Linked DNA regions of Homo sapiens: regions 1, 2, 3 and 4 are each linked to region 5. Evidence: fine-mapped expression QTL. A gene starts in region 5. Each other region holds a variant in brackets. All regions are shown on one strand. Distances are between the middles of the regions.

Region 1 (4,121 bases), 65 kb after region 5:
TAACTATTTAACAACCCTTGTTGTTAAAGAGGATCCCATCTTTGCCACCTCTTTTTCATCTTCTGTCTTCTGAGGATGGGTCTGCCAGATGTGTTCTCTGGACTTTTAGGAAATTGAATTTGGAGGAAAGGGAAGAAGATTGAGGACAAGAAGCACTCAGGTTAGTGGTGGTAGAGAAATTTCTCAGAGAAAACCCCTGCTTTTATCTGAGCACATGGCCTCCCAGAATCTCCAGCTTCCTTTGCAGCTAGGTGTGACCATATTAGCCAGATGACTAGGTTTTGGCCAATGGAATGCAAGTCAAAATAATGTGTATAACTTCTGGGTTATGCCTTTAAGATGAAGGGATATGATTCTCTTCTTTCGCTTTTTCTGCCAGCAGGAATATGGGAGTGGGAGTGGGTCATCTTGTTCATGAAGATAAAGGCAGCATCCAACACATCACAGAACAAGAGAGAAGAAACCTAAGCCCTTGACTACCTAGCAAAAGAAAGCCGCCATGTTTTCCCATGAGAGGAATAATCTTCTCACATGTTAAAGCCATGGATACCATTTCTTACATGCTTGAGTGGATTTCCACCCAATGTCATATCTGTCTCAGGCTCTGGGCCCTCTTGGCACCGCCTATCCCACTGTAATTAACTAGGCCAAGTTTAGGATAGTGCAAGGTACAATTTGTTCTACACTTTTTCTCTTGCTCCCCACCCTGTGGTTCTTAGACTATTTTCTCTATGAAAAGCATTACACAATGTTTTTTCCCTCCTTCTGTTCTCTGCTCTAAGCTTTCAGTCAATCAGTCACTCTCTCCCCCTCTCTCTAAGGCTCTTATTAAGCTCACCACCACCTTTGTACTGCTGGCATCTATTAAGGCTGCAATTCTGTGGTTCTGCTGCTCATTCCCAACTGACTTGTTACACAGTCAAATGGGGCAATTTATCCCCTTCAGAAAACTCCATGTCTTCTTCCATAGGAAAAGGACAGGCTCTCTCACATAAAACCACTGGAAAGATTACTTTCTCAAGGAAAACAAACACATTCTCGCTGTGATGTCTCATGACACAGCCACTCTTGGAAGAACTAACTGGATCTCAACAGGACAGATCCAAAGACCGAAACCAGCCCCACCCCATCCCCATAGGAAATCTTCTTATGGGGGATAAAGGGTCACTTGCTCAAGTCAGAGAAAATGGTATCTCCCTAAAGAGCAATCGACAGTCCAGCCAAGCTGTTGGCATGAGAAAGAGGCTGTGAGAATTACAGCAGCATCTTCCCAAGACAGCGGGGCATGGCCATGGGAACGCCAGGAATAAGCTATATTTGGAGAAATTGCCTTGTGTTTGGTATTAGGAGGTTTTGTCAGCAGATACCAGGACTCTGGGCATCAGGCAGAAGTTTAAAGACAGGATTTCAGGCCCTGGAGTAGTGATTCTTGACTGGAGGTTATTTTGTCTCCCCAGTACCTCAATGGCAAAATACCTCAATGGCACAGTAGGGTAAAGACATGGAAATAGGGCTGGGCATGGTGATGCATGCCAGTAATCCCAGCACTTTGGGAGGCCGAGGTGGGAGGATCGCTTGAGCATGGAAGGTTGAGGCTGCAGTAAGCCACATTGGCACCACTGTTTACTCTAGCCTGGGTGACAGAGTGAGATCATACTCAAAAACAACAAAAAAGAGAGATCAGAATGCTTATGACCAGAGGCAACTTGGCCAGGGCCTCCAGCAGCCCCACATCCACTTCTCACCCATCTGACTTGGCCTCTTCAGGGCTGAGTGTTTAAAATCTCTGAGGCCCACTCAGAACACACCAGATAGAAAGCTCTGCTATTGCCTTTTGGCTGGAACCTCCGTCTTCCAGTAATTCGCCAAAATGATGAACACGGGAAAAGAGGAGAGGCACCAGATATATGTTCTCTAGGCCTTTTAGAAAACATGGGGTTTTTCCTTTGGCCACGTATATGTGAATCTATGAGAAAGGTGATATTGTAGACATCAAGAAAATGGATACTGTTCAAAAAGGAATGCCCCACAAATGTTAACCATGGCAAAACTGGGAGAGTCTACAGTGTTCCCCAGCGTGCTGTTGGCATTGTTATAAACAAACAAGCTAAGGGCAAGATTCTTGCCAAGAAAATTAATGTGCATATTGAGCATGTTAAACATTCTAAGATCCCTGATAGTTTCCTGAAACACATGAAGGAAAATGATCAGAAAAAGAAGGAAGCCAAAGAGAAAGCTACCCGGGTTCAGCTGAAGTGCCAGCCTGCTCCACCCAGAGAAACACACTTTGTGAGAACCAGCGGGAAGAAGCCTGAGCTGCTGGAACCTATTCCCTATGAATTCATGGCTTAATAGATGTTTAAAATATCAAAGACCTCTGGACTGTAAAAATGTTTCTCTTCATTGAGTAGAAGTGTGGTGTCATCTCCCACAAAGATACATTTAAAGCAAATTTTAATTGTGTCCTAATTCATTGTGTAATATCTTTACTATTCTAATTTAAAGTTTTTCTT[G/C]CTGAAAGATGTGAGGTAGCTTATTGTGCAACAAATTACTCAATTGGTTAGAAAACGGGCAGATGTTATTTATGAACTGTTTGTACTGGTTTGAAGATAGTCCCTCTAAATCATCATGGGGCTGGGCGTAGTGGGTCGCACCTGAAATCCCAGCTCTTTGGGAAGCCCAGGAGGGCGGATCACTTGAGGCCAGGAGTTTGAGACCAGCCTGGCCAGCATGGCAAAGCCCTGTCTCTACTAAAAATATAAAAATTAGCTGGGCGTGGTGGCACATGCGTGTAATCTCAGCTACTGTGAGGCTGAGGCATGAGAATTGCTTGAACCCGAGAGGTGGAAGTTGCAGTGAGCTGAGATCACACCACTGGACTCCAGCCTAGGTGACAGAGCAAAACTCTATCTCAAAAAAAAAAAAAAAAAAAAAAAAAAAAAGAATTTTGGAAGAAATAAAATAATTTATAAAAAAAGACAGCTCTGCTATTATCACTAAATATATTTAATTACTAGCTATAATTTTTCCAACAGAGAAAACACCAGGCCTAGTTAGTTCAAAAGGTAAGCACAACCAAACATTCAAGAGATCAGTGCAATCATATGTGAAGTCTTGCAGAGAATAGAAAAAGAGAGATGAGCATCCAACTCATTATATAAGGCTAGTGTAATTTTGATACTAAAACCAGATAAAGACCTGGAAAAGAAACGTTCAAGCCAGTGTAATTTATTTGAAAATCCTTTTAAAAATTTAGCAAATCAAATCAGCAATGTATAAAGAAGTTAATCTATTGTGACCAAGATAGTTTATTCCTACAATAAAAGCTTAATTTCACATTAGAGTAATTTACCACATTATCAGATTAATGAAAAAATATTATTAGCTCAATAGATACAAAAAACAGCAATTGATTAAATCTAGTCATCAATGATTTTAAAAATTCTTAGTAAATGAAGGCTAAAAGGAAACTATCTAACATGATAAAGGGAAGTTGCAAAAATCTAACAGCACATATCACACTTAATGGTGAGACCTTAAAAAGCATTTTCTTTAAAACTAAGAACACGGTAAAGATGACTGTTCTCACCACTTCTGTAACATTGTACTAGGTGATCTAGCTTGCCCTTAAAATGGGAAAGAGGAATAAAAGGTATGAGGACCTGAAAGAAACAAACTATTCCTACTTGTGAATATCTTGCTAGGAAACTCAAAAACTCCATCAAAAAGCCATTAGACTTCATAGGAGCTTAGCAAGTCTGCCTTAAGTAAGGTCAATATACAAAATACAATTACACATGTATACTTCAGCAACAAATATTTAGAACACACAATTAAAGATGCCAATTACAACGGCAATTAAAAAAAAGACACCTTTGGAGTAAATCTAACAAAAATGTGAAGGCTTTTACAGAAAAAAATAATAAAAACTTCAGTAAAAGACAAAAAGAAGATACAAATAGTATTTCCCTAAAATAAGCTGTAGATTTAATGACTTTCTATTCACAGAACTTGACAAGCTGACCCTAAAATTTATATATTTTATATAGCAAAGCAAAGGGCCAAAGATAGCCAAAATAATCCTGAAGAAGAACAAGTGTCAGTAATTACACTACTACCAG
Region 2 (4,121 bases), 30 kb after region 5:
TTCCAGACTGTTTATCCATATCTCTAGAATAATTTGAGTGAATCAACAGCAGTCATTTTCAAACTTCAACATACGTAAGAATCGTCTGGGCAGTTTGTTAAAAATACAGATTCCTGGGCCCTAATCCAGAAATTGGATTTAGCAGGTCAGAATGTGGCCCAGGCATCTTTTTATTTTTTATTTTTTTGTTGTTGTTGTTTTTGTTCTTGAGACAGAGCTTTGCTCTGTCACCCAGGCTGAAGTGCACAATGTCAGCTCACTGCAACCTCCGCCATCCGGGTTCAAGCAATTCTCTTGCTTCAGCCTCCAGAGTAGCTGGGACTACAGGCATGTGCCACCATGCCTGGCTAGTTTTTGTATTTTTAGTAGAGATGGGGTTTTGACATGTTGGCCAGGCTGGTCTTAAAATCCTGATCTCAAGTGATCCTCCTGCCTCGGCCTCCCAAAGTGCTGGGATTACAGCAGGCATCCCTTTAAATGCATGCCTTCTGTGAACAGCACTTCCAGTACTGACTTAGAGAGACAAAAGGTCTTATAATTTTCGGTCCACTAGGTTATAAATTATCACCTTCACTTGTAAGGTAGTAAGATTAAGATAGTTAAAAGGAAATAATGATTATTTATAAATTATAAGTTATTATAAATTATAAATATGCATTATTGCAGCATTCAGAACACTTTTAATCAAAGTTAAGCATTCTGTAATGTTTTTCTTTTCCTTTTAAATGTAATTTTCTTTTGTTGCAAAAAATGTTTAATGGTGAAAGTCAGATTTAGGGTAGTTAAGTTGCTCAGGGATCCTGTAAGCAAATTTCTGACCTCCTACCTGCTTAGACTGTTGAGCCCTACAGGATTGTAAGAGACACACATGACAAATTATGGAGGAAATGAGAGAAAACAGAAAGAATCTTAGGAATGAAAATAGGAGAGCAGGAATGAGAAATATATGTTTCTATGGGTAAGCCACAGAAAAGATATGATGATTTATGGAGATATATTTGTGCTATATCCCTGAGCCCCATTTTCTTTTCCTTTCTTTTCTTTTTTCTTTCTTAGACAGGGTCTCACTCTGTCACCCAGGCTGGAGTGCAATGGCACAATCTCAGCTCACTGCAACCTCCATCTCCAGGACTCAAGCAATCCTCCTGCCTCAGCATCCACAGTAGCTGGGACCACAGACGTGCACCACCATGCCCAGCTAATTTTTTGTAGAGATGGGGTTTCGCCATGTTGCCCGGGCTTGTCTTGAACTCCTGGACTCAAGTGATCTTCCCACCTTGGCCTCCCAAAGTGCTGGGATTACAGGCGTGAGGCACCACACTCAGCCCCCATTTTCATATAGAAAGCACAACATGGACATCAGGAAGCTTGCCCTTTGATACTAATAGAATCACTGAAGTTCACTGAAGAAGATTTAGGAATATTCTGAACCACCAAGAGGGAACCCTCTGAACCATTTCTAATATATTCAGGCATTTTGGTTATTAACTAAATAATAAAATATGCAAACCAACCTATCAAATGCATTTGTTATTACTTTTTAAATATAAATTACAGAATTTATTGTATTAGGATATACTTCAGAAAACAACAGTTAATCTTGGCTATTCTTGGCCCTTTGATCTATGTAAATTTTAGAATCAATGCATCAAATTCCACCAAAAATCTATTAGGATTTTATTTAATCTATAGATGAATTTGAGAACCGACATCTGTATAATACAAGTCTTCCAACTCATTATCCTGAGCCTGTTTTTTTAGCCTTCTCCAAAATATTGCAAAGCTTTATATTTTCTTTGTAGAGTTGTTGTCTCCAACTTATTGCTAGCTCCTTGCTATTAAAAATGGTATCATTAAAAATTAATTCACTTGTTGCCTCTTTACAAAAAGTGCAACTGATCTCAAGTATAAATTTATACCTAGCAAACTTGATAAACTTATGTTAGTAATTAATCTCAAGATTCTTTTGGATTGTGTTTTATAATCTTATGTGATTAATAAGTTTTGTTTCTTTTTCTATCATCATTTTTTTTTCTTGCTTAACTCAGTAGCTGAGACTTTCAGAAAAATGCTGAATAGGAATAGGTGATAAGGGATATAAGACAAATCCCTTCTAGATCTGAGTCATGTCTTGGAAGAGAGCTACTCTGAAATGCCTATAGACCATAAGCAGACTGTGTGTGAGCAAGAAATATACTTTTATATGTTAAGCTCTTGAAAATGGAGCCTGTTAGTTCCTATAGCATGTTCTGTCCTAATATAATCAGATTAAAATAATCATCTTCCATTCCTAGTTTGTTAAAACATCTCATACATGACTG[T/C]TGAATCCTACCAATGTTTTTCACCATCTGTTTTGATGATTATATGATTTTTCCTCTGCAGTCTGTTAAAGTGACAAATCATACAAATTGTTTTGTTATCAGTTTCCATTTATTACTACTTGGTATTACACATGAGCTGATTCTCAGTGTGAATTAGGGCGTTGGACCCCTCCCCCTGCCTCCCTTCTTCTGTCTCCCCATTAGCCCTTGGATCTCAATCAAGAAAGCTGAACAGTGATGTTAGTGCTTTCTCCCCACTCTCCTCTCTTTTCATAATTGTTTTGCTAGGATGGTAGATCCTAAATAGGCATCTGAAAAAAAATGTTCCTTTAAACTCAGTAATTCAGTAACCACAAAGTCATCTTTATCTTGTTGAAGAGAGGATACTTGATGGGCAAACGTGTGGGGTGACAAAACCGTGAAAGCGCAACAGACTTCAGTTTATATAGGAACCTTGCTGTCTTCTCTGCAAAGAGGTATCCCACTAGCGATTTCATTATCAAGGAAATGAAGACACCTTTTCTGCAGAATTCATTTCTTTCTCATAAAACAAAAATCAACTTCATTCCACATAGCTTTTTAGGTTGAACTGACTAAATTCTGTGTCCTAATGTACTCGGTTTTAGTGATTTAAAAAATCTTTTCCTTCCCTTCCTACTTAGCAACCTTAGGAGATTGGTAAAAACAAACAAGTAAGTACCAGAATGTTCACTATAGTCGGATTAAGGATAGCAAAAACCAAACAGAAACATCCATAGAGAACTGTATAAATAAATTGTTATAGCCTTAGGATATTAGCCATTAAAAGGAATAAATTAGGTAAATGTATAGGTATGAAAAAGATTTCCAAGATATTCTGTTAAGGGAAAAAAGCAAGATGCAGAACAATATGTATAGGGATAATAAATTTTCTGGAATGATCCATGAGAAGGTGATAAAAGGGGTTACATTAGGTAGTGGAACTGGAGCGAGGAAACTTCATTTTCTACCCTTTGGTTCTATATGAAAGGTTTTGTCATATTACACATATTGCTTTTTAAATAATTTAAAATTAGTTTAGAACTTAAAATTAAATGATAACCTTTGCACTTTTTGGTGTTTAGCTTCTTTCAGGTTTTTCAGTCTTTCTGCTTCCATGGGCTCCGCTTTCTCTCCGAGCATTTCTCATGCCCATACATGTTTATTCTGGAATTGTCATCTTTGGAACAGTGATTGCAACAGCACTTATGGGATTGACAGAGAAACTGATTTTTTCCCTGTAAGTTGCATAGTCTTCTTAATTGTAATACTTAAGCCACAAAATGTTAAATACTTGTTCACTGGGAAAATGTAATAAAAATATAACAAAATTTTTTAGATATTAAAATTAAAAAATATTTTAAAGAATTTGTTATATCATATAGGTAATATGATATTACTAAAAGTTTAGAAGGACCAAAAAGTCTGACAAATTGTATTACTCTTATGAAACAACTATTGAAGTTATACATTCCCTTTCAATCTTGTTGATATGCATGTTTTTATATTAATTGTAATTATAGTGTACATACATTTTTGTTTCATCCTTTTTAAAAATTTTAAGTGATAACTGTTACTGGTGGAGGGTGTCCAGGTTCTTGGCGTTTTGAACAAAGAAGTGGACAAAACACACAAACAAAGCAAGTAAAGAATGAAGCAACAAAAGCAGAGAGTTACTGAAAATGAAAGTACACTCCACAGGGCGGGAGTGGCCTGAGCAGCCACTCAACGGCCCGATAGGGAATCTTCTTGGGTCCAAATAGCCCCTAGAGGTTTCCCATT
Region 3 (4,121 bases), 21 kb before region 5:
ATTTTGTTTAATGAAGACTTTAACTTATAAGCAGTTTATATTAATTTGAGGTAGTCTAATGTTTTTGCTGCAACAATCAGAAAATAAAATGGATAAATTGCAAAATTATACTTTTAAAGATATTAGAGAGTTTTGGAACAAGGAGGAATAGATGAACTGAAATTCTAGAAGGGTAAGAACCCTCTCTAGGTGAACTAACAATTGTCTTTGTTTTCTTCACCTGTGGGCCTGACCCCCAGGCAGAAAGACGCTAGTAGAAGAAGGAGAAACCAGTAGAACTTTTGACAGTCGCACAGGGCTGTTGTGACCTATAAGAAACTGGAAGAGCCCAAATGCAAGGCTAGTTTCCCGTGAGACATTTTCTGAGTTTTAGGGTGATCTGTGAGGCTGGGAGCTGGGCCAAAAAGGCAAACTGAACTCTCCCATTGTCTTGTTCTGCTTAGGGAAAAAAATTCTACGAAGGGAAAGGAGTCTTTCACAAATTCACAACTAGTCTGTCACTCATGCTGGTGACATGCTTGTTCAGCCTGAAGAATTGTGAGACAAATAAACTTTTCTTTATAAATTACCCAGCCTCAGGTATTCCTTTATAGCAACAAACAAAAAAATGGACTGACACAGTATTAGTTTGCTAGGAATGCCATAACAAAGTACCACAGACTACAAAGCTTAAAAGACAGAAATTTATACTGTCACATTTCTGGAGGCTAGAAGCTGGAGATCAAGATGTCAATTAGTCTTCTCCCAATGGACCAATGAGGGGAGAAAAAGATGTCAATTGGGTTGTTTTTTCTGAGGCCTCTTTCTTTGGCTTGTAGATAACAGTATCCTCCCTGTGTCCTCACATGGTCTTTCCTGTATGTGTGTGTCTATGTCCCAATCTCCTCTTCTTATAAGGACATAGTCACATTACCCACTACCCACCCTAATGAACCCCCCGCCTTTTAATTTTTTTATTTTATTATCTTTTTTTGAGATGAAGTCTCGCTCTGTGGCCCAGGCTGGAGTGCAGTGGCGCGATCTCGGCTCACTGCAACTTCCACCTCCCAGGTTCAAGCAATTTTCCTGTCTCAGCCTCCTGAGTAGCTGGGACTATAGGCACCACATCCAGCTAATTTCTGTATTTTTAGTAGAGACAGGGTTTCACCAGGCTGGTCTCAAACTCTTGACCTCAGGTGATCCACCCACCTTGGCCTCCCAAAGTGCTGAGATTACAGGGTGAGCCACCACGCCCGGCCTAATGAGCCCAGTTAAACTTAATTGCCTCTTTAAAGACCCCATCTCCAAATATAATCACATTGTGAGGTATTGGGGGTTAGGACCTCAACATATGAATTTGTGAGGGACACAATTCGGCCCATAACAATGGAGGCCAAAGAGCTAAGCTCACACCTCGAAAGCACAGGACTTCATGTTTTCAGGGCTGAGGACTCAATTAGGACTTGTAAAATCAGGACTTTACAAACTCTCAATTAAAAGCCCTGACCCAACTCAATCACTGATTGGAGTGGACTGTCCTTCAGTCTATCTGTCTAACTGAGGAAAGGAGGAATACCCACTAGTAAGAGATGTCAGTTGGAGCCTTCATCTCTTGTACACAAGGTCTGTCATATAATAAAAGACATGTAAAGAAGCAGAAAACCTGTCCAGGCATGGTGGCTCACACCTATAATCCCAGCACTTTGGGAGGCTAAGGCAGGCAGATCACTTGAGCCCAGGAGTTTAAGACCAGCCTGGGCAACATAGTGAAACCTCATCTGTACAAAAAATACAAAAATTACCTGGGCATGGTGGCACATGCCTGTAGCCCCAACTACTAGGAGCCTAAGGTGGGAGGACTGCTTGAGCCTGGGTGGTGAAGGCTGCAGTGAGTCCTGGCCGTACCACTGCACTCCACTGGCTGGACAAGAGAGTGAGACCCTGTCTCAAAAAAAGAAAGAAAAGAAAAGAAAAAAAGAAGCAGAAAAATATGACCAATGACCAAGAGAAAATATTAACAATAGAAGTAGACCAATGGAGGATCCAGATATCAGAAATAGCAAAGACTTTAACTGTTATAAATATGTTAAGTTAGAGGAAAATATAGATAAGATGGATGAAAACATGGAGAATTTCAACATGGAATTGAAATATATTTTAAAAAACAGGATGAACATTCTAGAACTGAAACACATAATCTGTGAAATTAAGAACTCACTGGATGGCTTTAACAACAGACTGGAAACAGCAGGATTGGATTAGTGAATGAAAGACAGGCTATTAGAAAACATTAAACTACAAGGAGGAAAAAGATCGTAAAGGAACAGAAAATTATGTGCTT[ATTGGCCACTCATATC/A]TTGGCCACTCATATCTTTTATGGTAAAGTATCTGTTCAAATCTCTGGGCCATTTTTTAAGAAATGTGTTGTTTGTGCTTATAGAAACAATACATTGAGTTGTAGATATTCCTGTAGATATTCCCAACACATTGAGTTGTGTACATCTTGAGTTGTAGATATTCCTTTTATACCCTGAATACCAGAACTTTCTCAAGTATATAGAAATTTTTTCTCAAATATTCAAATTTTTAAAAAATTGAGGTGAGGCTGGGTGCAGTGGCTCATGCCTATAATCCAAACACTTTAGGAGGCCGAGGCAGGACAATCAGTTGAGCCCAGGAGTTCGAGACCAGCCTGGGCAACATAGCGAGACTCTGTCTCTATAAAAAGTTTTAAAAAATTAGTCAGGCATGGTGGCGCATGCCTGTAGTCCCAGCTACTCTGGCAGCTGAGGCAGGAGGATTGCTTGAGCCCGAGAGTTCAAGGCTGCAGTGAAATAGTATCACACCACTGCACTCCAGTCTGGACAACAGAGCAAGATCCTATCTGAATCAATCAGTCAGTCAATCAATCAATAAAAATTAAAACTGAGGTAAATATACATAACATAAAATTAACCATTAAAAGTGAACAATGCTGTGGCATTTAGTATATTCATGATATTGTACAACCAACATCTCTATCTAGTTCCAAAACATTTTTATTACTCCAAAAGGAAACTTTATAGTCATTAAACAGTTACTCTCCAGTCTCCCTTCCCCATAGCCCTTGGCAACCACTAATCTGTATTCTATCTCTATGAATTTGCCTAATCTAGATATTTCATATAAATGAATTCATATAATATGTGACTTTTTGTGTTTGGCTTCTTTCATTTAGTATAACGTTTTCAAAATTCATTCATGTTGTAATATGTGTCGCTATTTCATTCCTTTTCAGGGCTGATTAACATTCCATGGTATGTGTATGCCACAATATGTTTATCCATCAATTGATGGGCATCTGGGTTGTCTCCACCTTTAAAGTATTGTGAATAGTGCTTCTATGAATATGCATGTACCTGTATGTCTTTGGGTACCGGTTTTCAATTCCTTGGGGTATATTCCTAGATGTGGAATTGGTGGGTCATATTCTATGTTTAACTTTTTGAGAAACTGTCACACCCTTTTCCACAGCATCCATACCATTTTACATTTCCATAAGCAATGTATGAGGATCTCTATTTCTTCATATCCTTACCAAAGCTTATTATTTTCCCTTTAAAAAAGTTATAGCCATTCTATTTCTTCAAATCCTTACCAAAGCTTATTATTTTCCCCTTTAAAAAATTATAGCTATACTAGTTGGTATGAAGTGATATCTCATTGTGGTTTTGATTTGCATTTCCCTAAAGACTAACGATGTTGATCGTCTTTTCATGTGCTTCTTGGCCATTTTTTATCTTCTTTGAGAAATATCTTTTCAAGTCCTTTCCCCATTTTTAAATTGGATTGTTTGTATTTTTGTTGTTGAGTGATTAAGAGTTCTTTTTCTGGATGTTAGACCTTTATCAGATGTATGATTTGCAAATATTTTCTCCCTTCTCCCATTCTGTAAGTTGTCTTTTCACTGTTCTTGATAGTGTTCTTTGATGTACAAAAGTTTTTAATTTGGATAAAGTCCAATTTATTTTATTTTTATTTATTTATTTTTCAGACAGGGTCTCACTTTGTCACCCATGCTGGAGTGTAGTAGCACCATTTCAGCTCACCGCAACCTCTGCCTCCTGGGCTCCAGCAATCCTCCCACCTTAGCCTCCCACACA
Region 4 (4,121 bases), 41 kb after region 5:
ATTTTTTTCTTCATTGCCTGGAAGAAATGTGGCTGGATTAAGAGTTGCACAAGTGTGCAGTCGCAGCACTGGTCCCTCAAGTAATAGAGCCTGATGTTTAAGCAAATGGTTGTCTGACAGCCACAAGTCTCCACACAGTGAGATCTCTTCCCTGTATCATTTTAACTGCTTCAGATACTAAGACTGCTACTGCTGCCACTACCAGTAAAAAATGAGGCCAACCCGTTGTCACTGCATCAGTTTCCTTACTCAAGTATGCCATGGGTTGCAAGCTGGTCCCTCGGACCTGTGTAAGGACTCCTAGAGCTATTCCTGTTTTTTTCTGTTGCATATAAGGAAAAGTCTTGCCCTGTTGGCAAGCTTAACACTGGGGCTTGGTTAGGGCCTTTAGGGCCTGGAAAACCACTTCTGCTTCAGGTGTCCATCTTACTAAATGGGTATTGGCTTTCTGAGTTTTCTTAATTAGTGTATATAATGACCTGGCTATTTCGCCGTACCTGGGAATCCATATTCGGCAGAAGCCTGTTATGCCAAGGAACCCTGTTAGTTGCTTTAGTGTTTTGGAATGAGGATAAGCCGGTATAGGCTGGATACATTTCTCACCAAGGGCAAAACTTCTGGTGAGTGTACTCTTTCTGCAGGAAGTAAAAATGGCCTTACTAAATAAATTAAATTTATGTTCAAGTACTATTTCTTTACAGCACCTGGGAACAAGCATTTCAAACAACTCCTTACCATTTATTCCCCGGGTCCACATCTCTTCTTAAAGGAATGTGGACTTTCTTCCATGATTATCGGCTGTATGAAGAACTGTCTTGGAACCAAGAGAATACATCTTCATAGGATGCAGGCTTCAGGGAGCTAGAATAGAGGAGTGGGGAGCACAAACTGAAAAGGGTTCCCCTCACTCACTACAGAGGCACAACCCGTAAGGCCAGCCATTCTAAGGACAGGCCAATTTGGGTGGGTGAGGATGCTCGATACGGGAGCGGTCCAGGAGCACATGTCTGCCGACCTTTGTTCATGTCAGAGGTAGCCCACAGGGCAGTGCTCATTTATATCACCAATCCATAAGAATACATTTTTGTTTTGTCAAAAAGACAATGTCTATAGAATTATCTGAAACCTGTTTTTTCAGATCTGACTAGAGTGAGTTAGCTATGATCACTTTCCTTCTGGTAGCCACTCAAGGGGCGTGATAGGCGAGTGAGGTTTATAGAGTGAAAGGAAGACGGCTCATGCAGGATTTGGCTGGTGAGTGTTCTATTAGGGTGAGAATTTTGGAAGGAGAAGCTTTCTGATTGACTTTCAAATACAGTTGGCAATCTGGTTGGTATAATATCTACTGGTACATAACTAGGAAATTTCTAGGCTGAGTGGAATAGTATGAGTTTTTCTGTTTCAACGGGAAGAATATCTGGTTGTCAGCCTCAGGGTCAGAACTGTACATAAGCAATCCCTTAGTTTGGTGAATGTTATGGCAGAAATTTAGTCTGAAGTCTAGTCCAAATAAATGTTTTCTATATTCTCATATCTATTTATATGAATCTTATCACATTAAGGCTAGACTGAGACATGTCACAAATTTCTCTCTTGTGGAATGAAGGTGAAAAAGAGAAATATAAGCATTGGGTGAATGTTGAAATGGATAAGTTCTGAGATTCCTCTTAAAGTTTAGATTCTGATGAGATTTCCTGAACAGGTGCCTCTCTTGTGGCTCAGGTACCAGAGGGACTCTGTAGAACTCCAGGGGGCCAGGCCCTAGCTCAGCCCTGGCACACACAGGCAGGCCCTAGAGTAGCCACTAGTGATGAAGGAGGAGGGCAGGAAGCATCCTTGCCCTCCCCAACCCACGACCTGGCTCCCTGTCTCTATCAGCGCTCACATTCCCCATTCAAACCTCTAGGTCTTGAGCAGATTGTAGGAGGTTCTGGCCCAGTGAACTCACCTGGAACACTCAAATGAAGGAAGTAAAAGGGTGTGAGGCAAGAGGAGCAGTGACAGCCTTAAGTGTGAGCTAATTCACCCCAAGAGCAAGCAAAAGTGCAAATAAAACTCAAGGGTGTGGAAAAGTGTGGAGTGATGATTAGGATTCAGGCCTCTCCTTGCCTAGCCTTCCTCCATTCTCTCTCTCTCAACCTCTC[A/ACT]CTCTCTCTCTCTCTCTCTCTGTCTCTGTCTCATTTAACAGAGCACTGGATTGCGAATGGAGTGCAAGTAGAGACTGAGAATCACCACTGTAGTGATTGTATCTGTGTGGCAAATCATCTTAAAGATTTCTTGTATTTGGAAACAATGTCTAATAAAGAATGGCCAAATACAAAGTTACACTATACAAAAACTATGTCATCAAAAATTATATTGTTCAAGTGAATAATTAGCAATATGAAAATATGTTCATAAAATATTAAGTGAAAGAAATTGAATATAAAAGAGTTTGTAAATGTGAATGTGCATACACTTTCAAATAACTGGAGGCATAATATACCAAATAGTTAATTAGTTAATAATGGTTATCTTTGGCCTGGTGTGGTGGCTCATGCCTGTCATCCCAGCACTTTGGGAGGCCACGGTGGGTGGATCACCTAAGGTCAGAGACCAGCCTGGCCAACATGGTGAAACCCTGTCTCTACTAAAAGTACAAAGGAAAAAAAAAAAGACAGATGTGGTGGTGCGGGCCTGTAATCCCAGCTACTTGGGAGGCTGAGGCAGGAGAATCACTTGAACCTGGGAGGCAGAGCTTGCAGTGAGCCGAGATCGCACCACTGCACTCCACCCTGGGTGACAGAGCAAGACTCTGTCTCAAAAAATAAAGTAAAATAAAATAAAATAATGTTAAAAAATGGTTATCTTTGAGACATGGTAGGATAATGGGCATTTTTCATTTTCTTCTTTTTGTTTTCTCTGTATTTTCTATAATTAAGTATCACTTTTGTACTAAGAAAAACATGTATTATCGGAATCCCGTCTGCCTCATTGACATCATCCAAATGTTTGCTTAGTCTAATTTATCAAGAAATTGAAGATAATATATTTATAATTGAAATAAATGTTTTCCTAACACCAGGAAAGAGGAACTAAAGCATTTGCCAAGATCCTAACTTGGTCAGATACCGGAATGGCCTGAGGGACTATTTGCTTTGCAGCATTGTTAATCTCCAGATCGCAGAGACATAAACATTTACAAGTCTTCCGAAGGTCATGCAATCACTGGAAGCTGGGCAGTATATACTTGTAAGAACTGGACAAAACAGAAAAATCTGGATTCTTGTAGGAACTCTATCATGGTCCACGGGTGTAATCTTGGGCAAGCCGCTTAATCTCTCCATCTGCTACAAAAAACAGGTCCTTTTATATTCACTCACCAATTAGTGATTGAGGATGTCTTGTGTGCACTGCTCCTAGGCACTGCCTGGGGCTCATGCTGAAAGCTATGAATCTGTTATTTTATAGACTATTGCAGCCAGTTTAATTCATACACCATTTCCATCCTTCAGCACAGAATTACCTACAATTCTCATGGCTTACAACTGGAATAAACCTTTGTAATCTAGGTATCGAGGGCTCCAAAAAAGAGAGACAGTTAGTAGGCTTTGTAAAAGTGACAAAAGAGGCAAAAATGGGACCAGACACAGTGGCTCACAGATATAATCCCAGCACTTTGGGAGGCTGAGGCGGGCCGACCACTTGAGGCCAGGAGTTCAAGACCAGCCTGGCCAACATAACAAAACCCAGTCTCTATTAAAAATACAAAAAATTAGCCAGGTGTGGTGGCACACACCTTTAATTTCACCTACTCCGTAAGCTGAGGCAGGAGAATCGCTTAAACCCGGGAGGCAGGAAGCGAAGGTTGCTGTGAGCTGATATTGTGCCACTGCACTTAAGCCTGGGCAACAGAGTGAAACTCTATGTCAAAAAAAAAAAAAAAAAAAGAAAAGAAAAAAAGGCAAAATAGGGTAAGGAATAGACTGAGTAAAGAGTTAGAGATGGGTCAGAACAGAATCCACTTGGCCCAGATTAGCTTGGAGGGCAGGGAGGAGGGATGAAACCCTGAGCAAAAAGCAATAAGAGAAATTACAGATCACGGTGGTAAATTCCCAAACATGGTGTTTTAAATACCTTATTTA
Region 5 (4,121 bases):
TAGCAAAGTAGTCCTTGGAGATGAGCTACAGAAGAGGGCTAGAAGTGAACGTTCCCAAATGCATTCTGGAAGCCCTGGCAGTCAGAACCCTTTTTCTTATAATAGCATTAGATAATGCTGACATTGTTTTTGTCCAGTGGAGAAGGGTGAGGATAATGTTGGAAAGAGGGCAGGGAGCAAGCTTCACTTCATCAAGGAGGGGCTTTGGTTCAAATTGGTTTGGGTGGGCGGGCACTTTGAAAATCCATTTGTCACACTAAACGGCAAGTCCAGGTCCAGGAGGTTCCTGTCTTCCCTCTCTCAAGAGCAAACTGCAAGTAGTTTCATTGCAGGATAAGGCCAAGCCCACCGCTGCCCATGCTGTTTTTGTTTTGTTTCCAGACAGAGTCTAGCTGTCACCAGGCTGCAGTGCAGTGGTGCGATCATACCTCTCCTGAGCTCAAGTGATTCTCTTGCCTCCACCTCCCAAAGCCCTGGGATTACAGCTGTGAGACACCTCATGGGGACCCGGTTTACTGGGTTTTTTTTGTTTTTTGTTTTTTGTTTTTTTTTGAGACAGAGTCTCACTTTGTCACCCAAGCTGAAGTGCAGTGGTGCAACCTCAGCTCACTGCAGCCTCGACCTTCTGGGCTCAAGTGATCCTCCTTCCTCAGTCCCCCAAGTAGCTGGGGCTACAGGTGCATGCATTTGTATTTTCAGTAGAGACAGGGTTTCACCTTGTTGCCCAGGCTGTTCTCAAACTCCTGGACTCAAGTGATCTGCCCGCCTTAGCCTCCCAAAGTGCTAAGATTACAGGTGTGAGGCACTGCGCCTGGCCTTTACTGTTAACTTAAAACAAAAAATTATAAATTTGAAAAAAGAGGAGACTTTATTTCTTATAAAAGGTTATAGCCTGCAAGGAGGCCATTCCATAGGCTGATAAACATAGCCTCTGGCCTAAGACCAGAGACAGGCACTTGGAAGGCAGAGGGGTTGGGGTAGGAGCTTTATGCTGAACAGTTTGGCCAAACATACATACGTAACAGGTTACAGGAGGAGCTATGAATATTAATGGAGGTGGTCCTTACACATGCATATTGAACAAACATGCATGTAACATGTTCTCTTTGGGGTGGAGACTTAACATTTAATTGTATTACTTCAAATACATTTAAATGTATTACTTCAAACCTACACTTCAAAAGGTCTTTTCAGGACGTGAATGCATACAAGTGCACAATCCCTGTACACTGGCCAGAACCGGTCCATGGTCGGTCTTCTTATCATGAAAAAGTTCCTGAAATCAGCCCAGTGAAAGCTGTAGTTCTGGCTGGTGCAACAGGGGTTCAGCTGGTCAGCATCTGTGAACTGATTAAGTTGTAATTGTTTTAATATTGCTTATCTCAAGCCAGTGCTTGTTTAGCCTCTAGAGGAAAAGAAAACCTTTGTGGCAGTTAGACCATAGTTTATTTCTTAAGTGTAGGAGTGTGTGACTTAGGTCCTTTTTATAATTTGATGTCTTATTGCTACAAAGAGTCTGTTCTGTCCGCCTTATGATTTCTATTTTAAACATTAATGCTAGTCAGCTGTTGAGTCTAAATTCCAAAATGGAGGGGGTAGACTTCCCTTCCGGCTGTAGCTAGAAACTCAGCTTTAAGGTTTTTCTGGGGTCTGCTTGGCCAAGGAGGTCCATTCAGTCAGTGAGGGGCTTAGGATTTTATTTTTAGTTTACACCACCTTACAGGTTCCTCCTTAACACCCTTTGATGTCAGAGACAGCCAATTCTCCAGCACTGTGGCTAAGGAGGCTTCGTTAGTAGTTAAAAGCACACACATAACCCTACCCAACGGATCCCTCTCTTCTCTTAACCAAGAGGGCGCACCACTGCCCTACTCAACCTCCCCACAAATAAGGACGAGACACGGGAAGTGTTAAAAGCAAGTGGTGAGTATAAAATCCTCGGAATTTTCTCTTTGAGCAACTAACTAGGTCTGTTACTGAAGCCCTCTGCGAGCTTGGATGCTGGACGAGGGAGAGGGTGAGGCCACCAGGCAATGAGCGCCCTCGGCGGCCGCGTGATCCCGGGGGTGGGGCCCATTTCTGAGTTGGGGCCAGCTCCCCACCCCCAAGAGGCCCCACATTCCGGGCCAGCAGCCCAGAAAGTCCCTCCCCGCAGGCGGAGACAGCCCCAAGAAGTCGACGCCCCGGTCCCGCCGCCCGGCCACTACCCAGAGGGCTGCCGCCGCCTCTCCAAGTTCTTGTGGCCCCCGCGGTGCGGAGTATGGGGCGCTGATGGCCATGGAGGGCTACTGGCGCTTCCTGGCGCTGCTGGGGTCGGCACTGCTCGTCGGCTTCCTGTCGGTGATCTTCGCCCTCGTCTGGGTCCTCCACTACCGAGAGGGGCTTGGCTGGGATGGGAGCGCACTAGAGTTTAACTGGCACCCAGTGCTCATGGTCACCGGCTTCGTCTTCATCCAGGGCATCGGTACTGGCACCTCCTGGGGGGGTGCGGGGAGGAAAGCGGGGAGAACGGCGGGGGCAGAGGGTCCTCCGTGAAGCCCCTTCCAGCTGAGGAAGTGCTGGAGGATCGCGGGGCCCGGAGGAGTGCGGTGAGGAGCGCGCGGGAAGCCAAGTCGGCTGGGCGGGAGGGAGGCTGGCTGGCTCTGGGGCGGGACAGAGCTGCGGTTCAGGAGGATCGCCGCGAGCGCGGGGCCGGGGGTGCGCGGTGGAGACGCGCTGCTGGGGGCGGCGGAGCGGGGCCGGCCCCACTTGGTTAACTCTTTGCGGCGACTGGCTAGGACGCACTGGAGGGGCCTCCAAGACCCAGAAACTTGAGCCCGGGCGCGATGCCGGAGCGCCGCGCAGTCGGGCCGCTGCAGCCCACGCGCCCCGGAAAGTCGCCCCTGTGGACCGAGCCTGCGCGATCGGGGGCGCGGAAACACTTTCGCCTCAGCCTTTTGCTGAACTTGCTTCCAGGCTGCAGATGAGGAGGGGAAGGCAGCGGGGAAAAGATTGCCGGAGCGAGAATTTGCCCGTATTTGTAACATCCTCGGCCCTGGGTAAAGGGGCTGGCCAAGGGGGGCGAGTGAAGCATCCGCCCTGGGTTCCTCTCCTCCTAGAGTGTTAAACTCAGTCGAGTCCGGGAAGCTGCCAGGACTTCCAAGTGTGTTTCGCCGCCCTGCCCAGTCATTGGACGGTCTTGAGCCCGACTTGTTTATGTGGCAGAAGAGTGGCGAAAGTTCCCCCGCGGGGCTTCCTATTGGGCACTGGCCCAGCACTCCGGGTGGGAGATGCCCGGAGAGGGCCCGCGGCTGCCTGGCACCGAGGGATGCCTCTGCTCGGGATGCCCCCGGCGCAAGCTGCGTCCGTGTTTGGCCCGCGGCGAGCCAGCCCCGGGCCTGCATTCTCTGGGCTGAGGCTGGCGCGGGGGAGGGGCTCAGCAGTCGCTGGCAATGTTTGTTGTCATTGTGTAGTGCCTCTCAATGTCCTGACTGCTTCCTTCGGTTTGCCGTGTAGCTGGAGGAACCTCTAGCTTTTGGCGCAAACACCATTTATTTGTAACCACTTCCCCAAAGGCACGGCCTTCAGAAAGTAGTTAGAGAAAGGCAGCAAGGGGTGGAGTGGTGTTATGTCGCAGAAAATAATCGAGAGGAGTAGCAAGGGTTTGGAAAGATATGCCCACTGGCCGAAATCTCTAGCTTTGCCTGCGGGCAGGCTGCCTTTTCTTCACCAAATATTTAACTCCCCACAAACGAGTGTGCAAAAGAGTGCTGACCTCATTCCTAAAGAAAAGTGATTTTGGCTTTTGTTTTTGTTGGTTGTTTTAAACTTGTACTGCAGCTTTGGCAAGTGTGGCCAGCATTCTCCCACTCTGGAATGTAGTGGAAGGTGTTACTAACCCTCAGCATTCAAAGGCTTCCCTGGTGTGAGATCGGCATCAGGGTGTGAGATCGGCATCAGGGTGTGAGCACCACTGGGCACCTAAGGCATTTCGTTGCGTAACTCTCAGTTATTTTGCCACTATGCTTATAAGAAAAAAACATACTCAAGTTCCAAAGTAACTGTCAGAAGCACTCTTTCCTTCGTGGTGGAGCCCTTAAGTTTGGCCCCGAGCTGTCTACACCTTGTTTGCTCAAAGAGTA

The links. PIP is the estimated chance that this variant, and not a neighbour inherited with it, causes the effect. A credible set is the group of variants that fine-mapping cannot tell apart.
Region 1: its variant is the best candidate, but not a certain one, in a credible set for the expression of CYBRD1 in whole blood (TOPMed, PIP 0.70).
Region 2: its variant is the best candidate, but not a certain one, in a credible set for the expression of CYBRD1 in blood mononuclear cells (TOPMed, PIP 0.73).
Region 3: its variant is the best candidate, but not a certain one, in a credible set for the expression of CYBRD1 in whole blood (INTERVAL, PIP 0.84).
Region 4: its variant is the best candidate, but not a certain one, in a credible set for the expression of CYBRD1 in monocytes (Fairfax 2014, PIP 0.82).

The regions. Positions count from the first base shown.
Region 1 is chr2:171,585,223-171,589,343 of GRCh38, forward strand. It overlaps the pseudogene RPL21P38. Among named protein-coding and RNA genes, the nearest start is that of CYBRD1, 65 kb to the left of the region's middle. The variant G/C (reference allele first, on the strand shown) is at 2,514.
Region 2 is chr2:171,549,922-171,554,042 of GRCh38, forward strand. It overlaps CYBRD1 (cytochrome b reductase 1), which reads left to right. Exons shown (of 4, transcript NM_024843.4): 3 at 3,425-3,579. Among named protein-coding and RNA genes, the nearest start is that of CYBRD1, 30 kb to the left of the region's middle. The variant T/C (reference allele first, on the strand shown) is at 2,322.
Region 3 is chr2:171,499,093-171,503,213 of GRCh38, forward strand. No RefSeq gene overlaps it. Among named protein-coding and RNA genes, the nearest start is that of CYBRD1, 21 kb to the right of the region's middle. The variant ATTGGCCACTCATATC/A (reference allele first, on the strand shown) is at 2,321.
Region 4 is chr2:171,561,501-171,565,621 of GRCh38, forward strand. No RefSeq gene overlaps it. Among named protein-coding and RNA genes, the nearest start is that of CYBRD1, 41 kb to the left of the region's middle. The variant A/ACT (reference allele first, on the strand shown) is at 2,145.
Region 5 is chr2:171,520,275-171,524,395 of GRCh38, forward strand. CYBRD1 (cytochrome b reductase 1) reads left to right here and starts at 2,200. Exons shown (of 4, transcript NM_024843.4): 1 at 2,200-2,464. The coding sequence starts at 2,272. RefSeq lists an enhancer at 2,289-2,398 and silencers at 2,509-2,618, 2,769-2,838.